3 separate regions of the Homo sapiens genome follow, and regions 1 and 3 are each reported to be linked to region 2. The links are microRNA targets in miRTarBase. Many come from high-throughput screens and were not tested one by one. Region 2 holds a microRNA gene; each other region holds the end of a gene's coding sequence. Distances are between the middles of the regions.

Evidence for each region. The annotated mature microRNA hsa-miR-106b-5p reads UAAAGUGCUGACAGUGCAGAU and lies in region 2 at 2,242-2,262, shown strand. An mRNA with a match to its seed (bases 2 to 7 or 8) in the 3' UTR can be bound and repressed. Matches are read on the target gene's strand: a 7mer-m8 pairs with bases 2 to 8, a 7mer-A1 pairs with bases 2 to 7 and ends in A, and an 8mer does both.
Region 1: miRTarBase lists RBM41 as a target of hsa-miR-106b-5p. Seed matches in the 3' UTR shown: 7mer-A1 at 140-146.
Region 3: miRTarBase lists AGFG2 as a target of hsa-miR-106b-5p. Seed matches in the 3' UTR shown: 8mer at 1,850-1,857.

Annotation. Positions count from the first base shown.
Region 1 is chrX:107,065,016-107,068,178 of GRCh38, forward strand. It overlaps RBM41 (RNA binding motif protein 41), which reads right to left. Exons shown (of 8, transcript NM_001324242.2): 8 at 1-2,678. The coding sequence ends at 2,512. Among named protein-coding and RNA genes, the nearest start is that of RBM41, 52 kb to the right of the region's middle.
Region 2 is chr7:100,093,171-100,096,304 of GRCh38, reverse strand. MIR106B (microRNA 106b) reads left to right here and starts at 2,231; the gene lies at 2,231-2,312. It overlaps MCM7 (minichromosome maintenance complex component 7), which reads left to right. Exons shown (of 15, transcript NM_005916.5): 11 at 138-531; 12 at 835-918; 13 at 1,964-2,132; 14 at 2,904-3,013. MIR25 (microRNA 25) reads left to right here and starts at 2,662; the gene lies at 2,662-2,745. MIR93 (microRNA 93) reads left to right here and starts at 2,458; the gene lies at 2,458-2,537. RefSeq lists an enhancer at 304-804.
Region 3 is chr7:100,564,270-100,567,432 of GRCh38, reverse strand. It overlaps AGFG2 (ArfGAP with FG repeats 2), which reads right to left. Exons shown (of 12, transcript NM_006076.5): 11 at 3,130-3,163; 12 at 1-2,501. The coding sequence ends at 2,442. Among named protein-coding and RNA genes, the nearest start is that of SAP25, 8.0 kb to the left of the region's middle.

The DNA.
Region 1 (3,163 bases), not on the chromosome of region 2:
TTTTACTCTTTATCTCCAGTAACATTTTTTTAAGTCTATTTTGTCTGGTATTAGAATAGCCACTCCAGCTTTCTTATGGCTGTTGTCTGTGTGATATATTTGTTTTCCATCCTTTTACCTTTAATCTCTTTCTATCTTCTAAAGTGTGTCTCAAATAGATGGCATGAAGTGGAATCAGACTTGTTTCTGACATCTCTGCCTTTTATAGTATTGCTTAATCCATGCACATTGTTATTTTGATATAGGAAGACTTATGACTGCCATTTTATTGTTTTTGATATGCCTCAAGCTTTTTGCTTCTCCATTCCTTCTTTTGCATTATTTCATAATGTGATATTTACATTTAATAATATTTTTGATTTTTTAAAAGTTATTTCCTCAGTGGTTGCTCTAGGGCTTACCATACACATCTTAACTAAACAGAATAGGCTTCAGATAAACACTAACTTAATTCCAATGTAACAACCCTATTCCTATATAAACCCATCCCCCGCTTTGTGGTATTATTGTTATATATGTTATTCCTATACATTACAAACCCAACACACATTATTATAATTACTTAATATAATTTTACATCTTTAAAAGAAGCTGAGAGAAGAGTAAGTATATGTTTATAGTTTTTTTATATTAAACTTATTTCCTATTTCACGTTCTCTCCATTTGTTCCTGTGGATTTGTCTTACCATCTGGAGTCAGTTCTTTAGTACAAGACAGTTTTGCTTCCACTCAGCTTCTTCAACCTGTTATCGGCAAATATATTATATTTTATACGTTATAGGCCAAACGATGCAACTATATACATATTGTTTTATACAACTGTGTTTTACATTAGTTAAGAGAAAAAAGAAAAATGCATAGATTGTTTCTGATAATTACATAATTATTTTTGCCTGTGCTCTTTTTCTGCATGTGTGTAGATTCAGATTACTGTCTGTGGTCACTTGCTTTCAGGCTGAAGAACTTCCTTTTGTATTTCCAGCAAGTCAGGTCTGCCAGCAACAAATTCTCTTGGTTTTTGATTATGTGAGATGTTTTATTTCACGTTCATTTTTGAAAAATAGTTTTATTGTATATAGGATTATTGGTTGACAGTTATTTTCTTTGAACACTTTGAATGTGTTATTCCACTGCCACTGCCATTGTTTCTGAGGGGAAGTCAACTACTAATTTTATTTGGGTTCCTTGGTAAGTGATGGCTCATTTTTCTCGTATTGCTGTTAAGATTTTCTTTTCGTTTTTGGGTTTTAGCATTTTTCTTATGATGTATCTGTCTGTAATTTCTTTTTCTTCTGGGATGTATAGGTTAATGTCTCTCATCAAATCGGGGGTATTTATAGCCATTATTTCTTAGAATATTTTTCTGCTCCTTCATTTCTTTTCCTTTTTTCCTGTACTCCCATTAGAAATATGTAGGAATGCTTAATGGTGTCACACAGGTTCTATACTCTTGTTCAATTTTATTCATTGTTTTCCTTTCTGTTCTTCAGCCTGGATAATATCTCAGTTCATCTTCACAACCCAGTGAGGTAAGTAGCATTATTATCCTCACTTTATAGATGAAAAATGTGAGGCTCAGATTAAGTGACTTGCCAAGGTCATAGAATGTTAAGTGTGGCTGTACAGGTCTGACTCCAGTTTGTACTACTTCCTCTCTGTATATTGTTTTTTTATTTTCCAGCAACCATAAACAAACAACTGGGGGATTTGTGACTGGCATCCTCTTTTCTAGAGAACGCTTTATTTCCATTTCCGTTTGGCATTCTTTGCTTGTATGTTCCTCTTCTAAAATTCATATGCCTAATATTTAACATATATTAGACACTTAATCAATGTTTATTGCTATGAATTCAATGATACTCAATGGTTGCTAGCTTAAATGGCTGTGAGAACACCAACATTTTGATCTAAAATATTTCACTAGAAAAATATATAGCTTTTTGAAGACTGATAACTTGTGGAGGAAGCATTCATTAAATAAGTCAACTGACTTATGAAACTACCTACTATTACTGCTGATAGTTCTGACTTAATAGCATTTGTTGATGCTTAGGCCTGGGGGTCCTACTCTTTTATTTACTAGGTGGATGAAATATGGCAAATGGGCTCTAGTAAAGAAATATTTCAACATTTAATTAGTTTTTTATTTCTGTGTATACGAAGCAGTCTAAGAAAGAATGTTATCTCTAGAGACAAATATTGAGGACCCCAGAAAAATTATAAAGATTTTTAAAAATCCTTAGGAATAATCCGTTGTAATTCATCCTGAGAAAATAATACTCTTTGCACTTTACCCTTCATACTCAGCATATCATCTGTCCTATATAGTCTTCAATTATATAATAGAAAATGTTTTCTACCAGTTCTCTCCAAAAGCTGAAATTACTTTTTTCCCCTCCCTCAGTTAGTTTTTCCTCTTCAACTCCAAACAAACTGGTGTCTATACATAAATCCTAGATCCAAGATTCCAATTCAAGAAAGACCATCCAGGACCCACAATTTATATATATTCTAGCTACCACTAATTTCTGTAGTGCTACCTGTAGCACATGATATGAGAGAAGTCGCTTGGAGATTTGACCGTTGCTTTTTGTTCTTTCCAAACTCTATCACCAATATTTTCCCATGTAGTTTGTATCCATTTACTAGATGCAATGCTTGCCATGCTATCTCCTTATCTAAAAGAGAAAGAAAAAATTTCAATTTACATAGGACTTAATAATTCAATTCTATTCCAGGTTTAGTTTAGATTATTTTGCCTTGGAGTTAAATGTAAGCTATAAGGCCATATAGTCATTTGATTTGATCATTTTTTCTATAATCTCCCATTTGCATTATTAAGCAAAATTAAATTAATGGCAAAAATAATAACAATAAAAACTCAAAATCGGTGTTTGAGGGTGTCTCCTAATTCAAAGAAACAAGTAGAGAAACAAAGACATAGGCAGCGTGCTAAAGAAGTCTAAGCTATTAGTAATTATACACAAGTCTCTATCTTAGGTAACAGATTATAGGTATTATTAGAATCAATCATTTTCAAAATGAGTAACACAAAAGAAGTTATCATGTTATCAAGGGCACTTTGCCACTTTTTTTTCAGTGGGAGAGTGGTTCTGGGCCACCTTATTGGGATAAATAAGTATAAGAACACTTGTAGGCATAT
Region 2 (3,134 bases):
GGGCATCTCAAGAAGGCCTGGTGGAGGGAGTGGAATGATCCCAGCGCAGGCCTCGCCTCCCTGGCCCGTTTGTTGTCTTTTGCTTGTTCTCTTTCTTGTTCTTTCTCTCTCATGGTTCCTTATTTCTTCTCTTCCAGGCCAGTACACAACAGGCCGGGGCTCCTCAGGAGTGGGGCTTACGGCAGCTGTGCTGAGAGACTCCGTGAGTGGAGAACTGACCTTAGAGGGTGGGGCCCTGGTGCTGGCTGACCAGGGTGTGTGCTGCATTGATGAGTTCGACAAGATGGCTGAGGCCGACCGCACAGCCATCCACGAGGTCATGGAGCAGCAGACCATCTCCATTGCCAAGGCCGGCATTCTCACCACACTCAATGCCCGCTGCTCCATCCTGGCTGCCGCCAACCCTGCCTACGGGCGCTACAACCCTCGCCGCAGCCTGGAGCAGAACATACAGCTACCTGCTGCACTGCTCTCCCGGTTTGACCTCCTCTGGCTGATTCAGGACCGGCCCGACCGAGACAATGACCTACGGTGAATGAAGCTCAACACCCAAAGAGAGGTCCCCTGTAATGATCTGTGTAGGGAGGAGGAGAGGTGAATCAGAAAACAAATTCCACGCTCCTGGAAACCCCAGAGCCTCCCCTTTGCAGCAGGGGCTGGTCCATGGTTCTCAGGGAAATGGTGGGTTGGGGCTGAAATGCTGATGAGGATTTCCCGGGAAAGCTTGTCCCTCCTACACTGTGAGGAAGTGGCAGAGCCAAAGGAGGGACACCTAAGAGGACATGGGTGCGTAGCCCTAAAAAGGGTGTTCCTTCTAACCTTCCCTCTGTCCAGGTTGGCCCAGCACATCACCTATGTGCACCAGCACAGCCGGCAGCCCCCCTCCCAGTTTGAACCTCTGGACATGAAGCTCATGAGGTAGGAGAGCTGGGTGCGGGTGGGCAAACGTTGGCGTGGGCCGTGCGAGCCTCCTGAAAAAGTGCTTATTAGTCTTAGGGTGTGTGTTTTTCACACCACCACTTCCCGCTACAGACATGTCCAGAGCCTCAGATCAGCTTTTAAGTGGAAAATTCCACACTTCATATCATAGGGACACAGGAAATTTTGTTTCCTACACTATTTATTTTTTTTGAGACGAAGTCTTGCTCTGTCACCCAGGCTGGAGTGTAGTGATCTCAGCTCTCTGCAACCTCTGCCTCCCAGATTCAAGCGATTCTCCTGCCTCAGCCTCCTGAGTAGCTGGGATTACAGGCGCACGCCACCACGCCTGGTTAATTTTTTGTATTTTAGTAGAGAGCAGTTTCACCATGTTGGCCAGGATGCCCACCTCTGCCTCCCAAAGTGCTGGGATTACAGGCATGAACCACTGCTCCTGGCCCACAAAAATATTTTTAATAAAATTACCTTCAGGTTATGTGTATCAGTTGTATATGAAATACAGGTGAATTTCATGTTTAGACTGGAGTCCCATCCCCAAGCTATCTCATGCATATGCAAATACTCCAAAATTTAAAGTTTAAAACACCTGCTCCCAGGCATTCTGGATGATAATCTCTATCGCTATTTTCCCATGAGCCTCCAGTGTTCTTTCCGGTTTTTACTCCCTTTTAAATATTCTGTAAACAGTTCTCTTTAAATAAAATATATGTTTTGCCATGTCATGCGCTCAGAGGAGGGGTCTGGATCCTCTCTTAATGACAGACGGATTTGTCTTACAAAGGCCATTTTCCCGAAAAAAATAGGAAATAACTTGGAGGATACTGGTGGGGGCTATACGTTTGGTGAAATCCATCAGTGATATTCAAGCCAAGCAAATAATCACCCACTAATTTGTGTTTTCCACTTAAAATTCTTGGAGGGGACCATGTTAAATGGGGAGCCCTGGTACAGAAAACAACATGGGCTCATATTCACTCCCTTCCCCATCTCCCTCTTCTGCTTCCCCATGAACCTTCCCCCACAGGCGTTACATAGCCATGTGCCGCGAGAAGCAGCCCATGGTGCCAGAGTCTCTGGCTGACTACATCACAGCAGCATACGTGGAGATGAGGCGAGAGGCTTGGGCTAGTAAGGATGCCACCTATACTTCTGCCCGGACCCTGCTGGCTATCCTGCGCCTTTCCACTGCTCTGGTAAGTGCCCAAATTGCTGGAGGGCCATCTGTTTTGACCCTTAAAGGGGTAGCTCCTTACCGTGCTCTCATTGCCGCCTCCCCACCTCCCGCTCCAGCCCTGCCGGGGCTAAAGTGCTGACAGTGCAGATAGTGGTCCTCTCCGTGCTACCGCACTGTGGGTACTTGCTGCTCCAGCAGGGCACGCACAGCGTCCGTGGAGGGAAAGGCCTTTTCCCCACTTCTTAACCTTCACTGAGAGGGTGGTTGGGGTCTGTTTCACTCCATGTGTCCTAGATCCTGTGCTACAGACCTTCCTTTCTGTCCTCCCGTCTTGGACCTCAGTCCTGGGGGCTCCAAAGTGCTGTTCGTGCAGGTAGTGTGATTACCCAACCTACTGCTGAGCTAGCACTTCCCGAGCCCCCGGGACACGTTCTCTCTGCCAATTGTCTTCTTGGCTGAGCTCCCCAAGCTCCATCTGTCATGCTGGGGAGCCCAGTGGCGTTCAAAAGGGTCTGGTCTCCCTCACAGGACAGCTGAACTCCGGGACTGGCCAGTGTTGAGAGGCGGAGACTTGGGCAATTGCTGGACGCTGCCCTGGGCATTGCACTTGTCTCGGTCTGACAGTGCCGGCCCAACACTGCGGATGCTGGGGGGAGGGGGGATTCCACTCCTGTTTTGTGAGTAGGCGACCCATGGGCTGCCCAGCCTTAAAGCCAGAACAAGGGTGTCCCCTGACCTCGTTCCACTGCCCTCCTCCCGTTCCCATCTTTCCCCCCTACCTTCCCCTTAGGCACGTCTGAGAATGGTGGATGTGGTGGAGAAAGAAGATGTGAATGAAGCCATCAGGCTAATGGAGATGTCAAAGGACTCTCTTCTAGGAGACAAGGGGCAGACAGCTAGGTGAGTGGTTTAGTGAAGGACAAAGCTGTGTCACTTTGTCTTCTGTGGCCATGTGTCTGAGGTTGGCCTCAATTCTAACACTGGCCACCATTGTTCTCTGTTGATGTCGAGCATTCCTGTT
Region 3 (3,163 bases), 470 kb from region 2:
AGAGCATGGTCCCTGCATTGGCCAGAAGTTGGTGTGAGCCCAGGTGAGTCACTCTAGCCCCGTGGTGTGTGTGGTGGGTTTGAATCTGCAGCTACCAGGCAATGTTTTCTCCATTTCCTCTCAAGCCAGGCCTTTCTCCATTCTTTGCTACTCTCCAGGAGAGGCGGCTCACTGGAGGGCTGGAGCCTGAGCTGCTGGAGCTGTCCCCGGCCAAGGAGAGCAGCTCCTAGTGTCAGCCTGTGCCCAGGGAACCCTGGGGCCCGAGGCTGACCTGGCGTTAACTTCTTACTGCTCATCCAGCTCTCACCAGCCAGCAGGCTGGAGTCCTTGTGGGCTGGAGGGGAGGGAGTCTGCAGGGAGGACCCGGGCCTGGACCCAGATAGTGAGGAGATGCCGGGAGACAGCACAGGGTGACAGAAGCAGGAGAAAGCCCTTCGGTTTAGCCTCAGTTCCAAACCTCGGCGCTCCTGGCATTAAGGGAAGGGTGATGGAAGCTGGGGGGAAATAACAGAAAGGCTCCTCCCCCTAATACACCATAACAGATTCCAGCTTCCCTCCCTCCGGCTCTAAGCAGAAAGGAAAGAACTGGTAAGAGAATTAGGTAGAGGGACACAGAGATAATCTAGGGTGGCGAAGAGGGGAGAAAGAGAAGAGATGGAACATGCAAAGGCCAGGAGCGAAGCGGGAGACCACCCAGGAGACAGAAGGAGGGCAGAGGCTGGGAGAAGAACAGGAACAGACAGGATGGGGTCCTGATTGTTGGAAAAGACAGGGAGGCCAATCCCAGCCTTGCAAATAGCAGCAGCTAGAGGTTATTTCCAGAAAAATCTGCAAAGTAAATACACTGATCACCCAACTCCCATATCTCTTTGCTGCTCTCTGTGGAAGACTCAGACAAACCCCAAGAATGAATGGCCACGGGGCCAGGGCAATGGTGGAAAGGGAGGGGCCTCACCTGGCCTTGGGCCAAACAGCAAGGTGGCCTCTGCCCAGCCAGGTGAGGTGTTTGCCACCCACCCCCTGACCAGGTCTGTCTTGTCACCACACAAATAGCCCAGACACCACAGCTGGATGTTGTCACAACATCCCCAGGTGGAAAGAGCCTGGGGCAGAGAATGTTCCAGACCCAGGAGGGGTCTACTTCCAGCACCACATTGGCACCAACCTCCTTTGCCCACCCTGGCCCCAGTGGGCATTCCCCTCACATCCAACAAACTCCAGTCCCCGGCAGTGGTGGCTCCTCTCCCGCCACGCTTCTTCTCATTGCTAATGCGGGACTCTTGTTCAGACAGGGACGGGCTCTGCCCTGTCTCTGGCCAATGGCAGCATTATCACTGGCCCAGGCAGTCCAGCCCAGCAGAGCCAGGTCAAGGATCAGTCATGTTGACTGACCTGCAACCCCTCAAAGTGGCCTGAAGCAAAACCACAGGCGCCGTTTTCTCTTTCGTTCAAATGCAGTTCTTTTCCAACATTGCCTGCAATGAGCTTTGGTGCAGAGATTTGGGGACAGGGAGGCACATGGAGAAAAAAAAAAAAAAAAAAAGACCAGGCAATTGCACAAAGCCTTTCCCTGGAAAACCCAGGCTCTGGGGATGGTGGGGGTCAGGACACATGGCTGCCCCCCCTCCAGCCCTGGAGCTCCGGCTTTGATGGTCGAGGCACAGATGGGGATTCATCCCATTCCCCACATACGAGAGCAGTCTGGGAGCGGGAGATCGGCTGGGTGTGTGTATATATGTATGTATGTGCATATAGATAGATCTATTTATATATAATAGGCTATATTAGAAAATCCTCTCTATGTATAAATATAAAACACTGGTATCCAAACATGACACCAACAGCTAACTAAAGTGCTTGACAGGAGCCGGGCCCGGGTAAGCTCGATGGTAAACCGCTCATCCTGGGCGCTGGGGAAGCAAAACAATGGGGGACCCCTTCAGCAGGGGGTGCTGCAGGAGGAAAGTGTGTGCTGGCCAAGCTGGGCCACCAAGAGCACTTGGGCCACCTGGGCCTTCTGGGTCTCAGGACTGTCTGGTCACTGCCCCATCAACACTGTGCCTCATCTTTCCCCTACCTTCCCCACTGCGCTCCCGTCCATGAGGAGCACAGCGCTGGCGAGCTAGGCCCAGGGAAGAGCTGTTCCACAGGGGACTGATCATTTGAAAAAAATCCCTCCCCCTCAACCATCACTCCTCCAGGTCAGGCCCTGCCCGCACTCCTCCTGGGCTTCCTGCCTGGGTGGGGGTGGGACGAGGGAGGGGAGAGAGGCTTTGTGGAATCTGAGGGCAGCCACCTTTCACCTGTAGGCCCCAAGCAAAGCATTAGCACCTCCACCATCCCCAAGGCCCATAGAAATGCCCACAGGCAAGTGGTCACCAGAGCTCTAGGGAGCAGAGGGGCCCCAGAAGGCAGGGAAGAGGCCCCCCAAAAACACAGTGCTACAAGAAGGGGTTGGTGGTTGGAGGTTTGGAGGCGAATGGGCTTGATGAGGGTCCAGTCTGGAAAGAAAGAACAATACATTTTCCAGTTAGGGGAGAGGAACTGGAAGCTTAGAAGAAAGGCAGCCAGGAGTCCTTTCTCCTGAAAAATCGCTATGCTGAGGGCAGTGGGAAAGTGAGGGAGAAAAGGCCAGGCACGGTAGCTCATGCCTGTAATCCCAGCCCTTTGGCAGGCCAAGGTGGGCTGATCACCTGAGGTCAGGAGTTCAAGACCAGCCTGGCCAACACGGGAAAACCCTATCTCTACTAAAAATACAAAAATTAGCCATGTGCGGTGGTGCACACCTGTAGTCCCTGCTACTTGGGAGGCTGAGGCAGGAGAATTGCTTGAACTCAGGAGGTAGAGGTTGCGGTGAGCTGAGATTGGGCCTGGGAGACAGAGTGAGGCTGTCTCAAAAAAAAAAAAAAAAGGAAAGTGAGGGAGAAGGGAGCCAAGGGCAGGGCTGGAACAGCATGGGAGATGCCAGTGCCCAGAAGAGCTGAGGCCCAAGCTCAGCCCTGGCTTGGACAACGCAGACCTTCACGAGGAAGGGGCACAGGGGCCACCTCACATCAGCCTCTTCTGGAAGGATTGTCCCAGAGGGAAAGCCCACGAGCCCTACCACAGCACCCCTGCTGGCACACTCACCATGAAGGGGTTGGTGGAGATCCCAGCTGGCTGG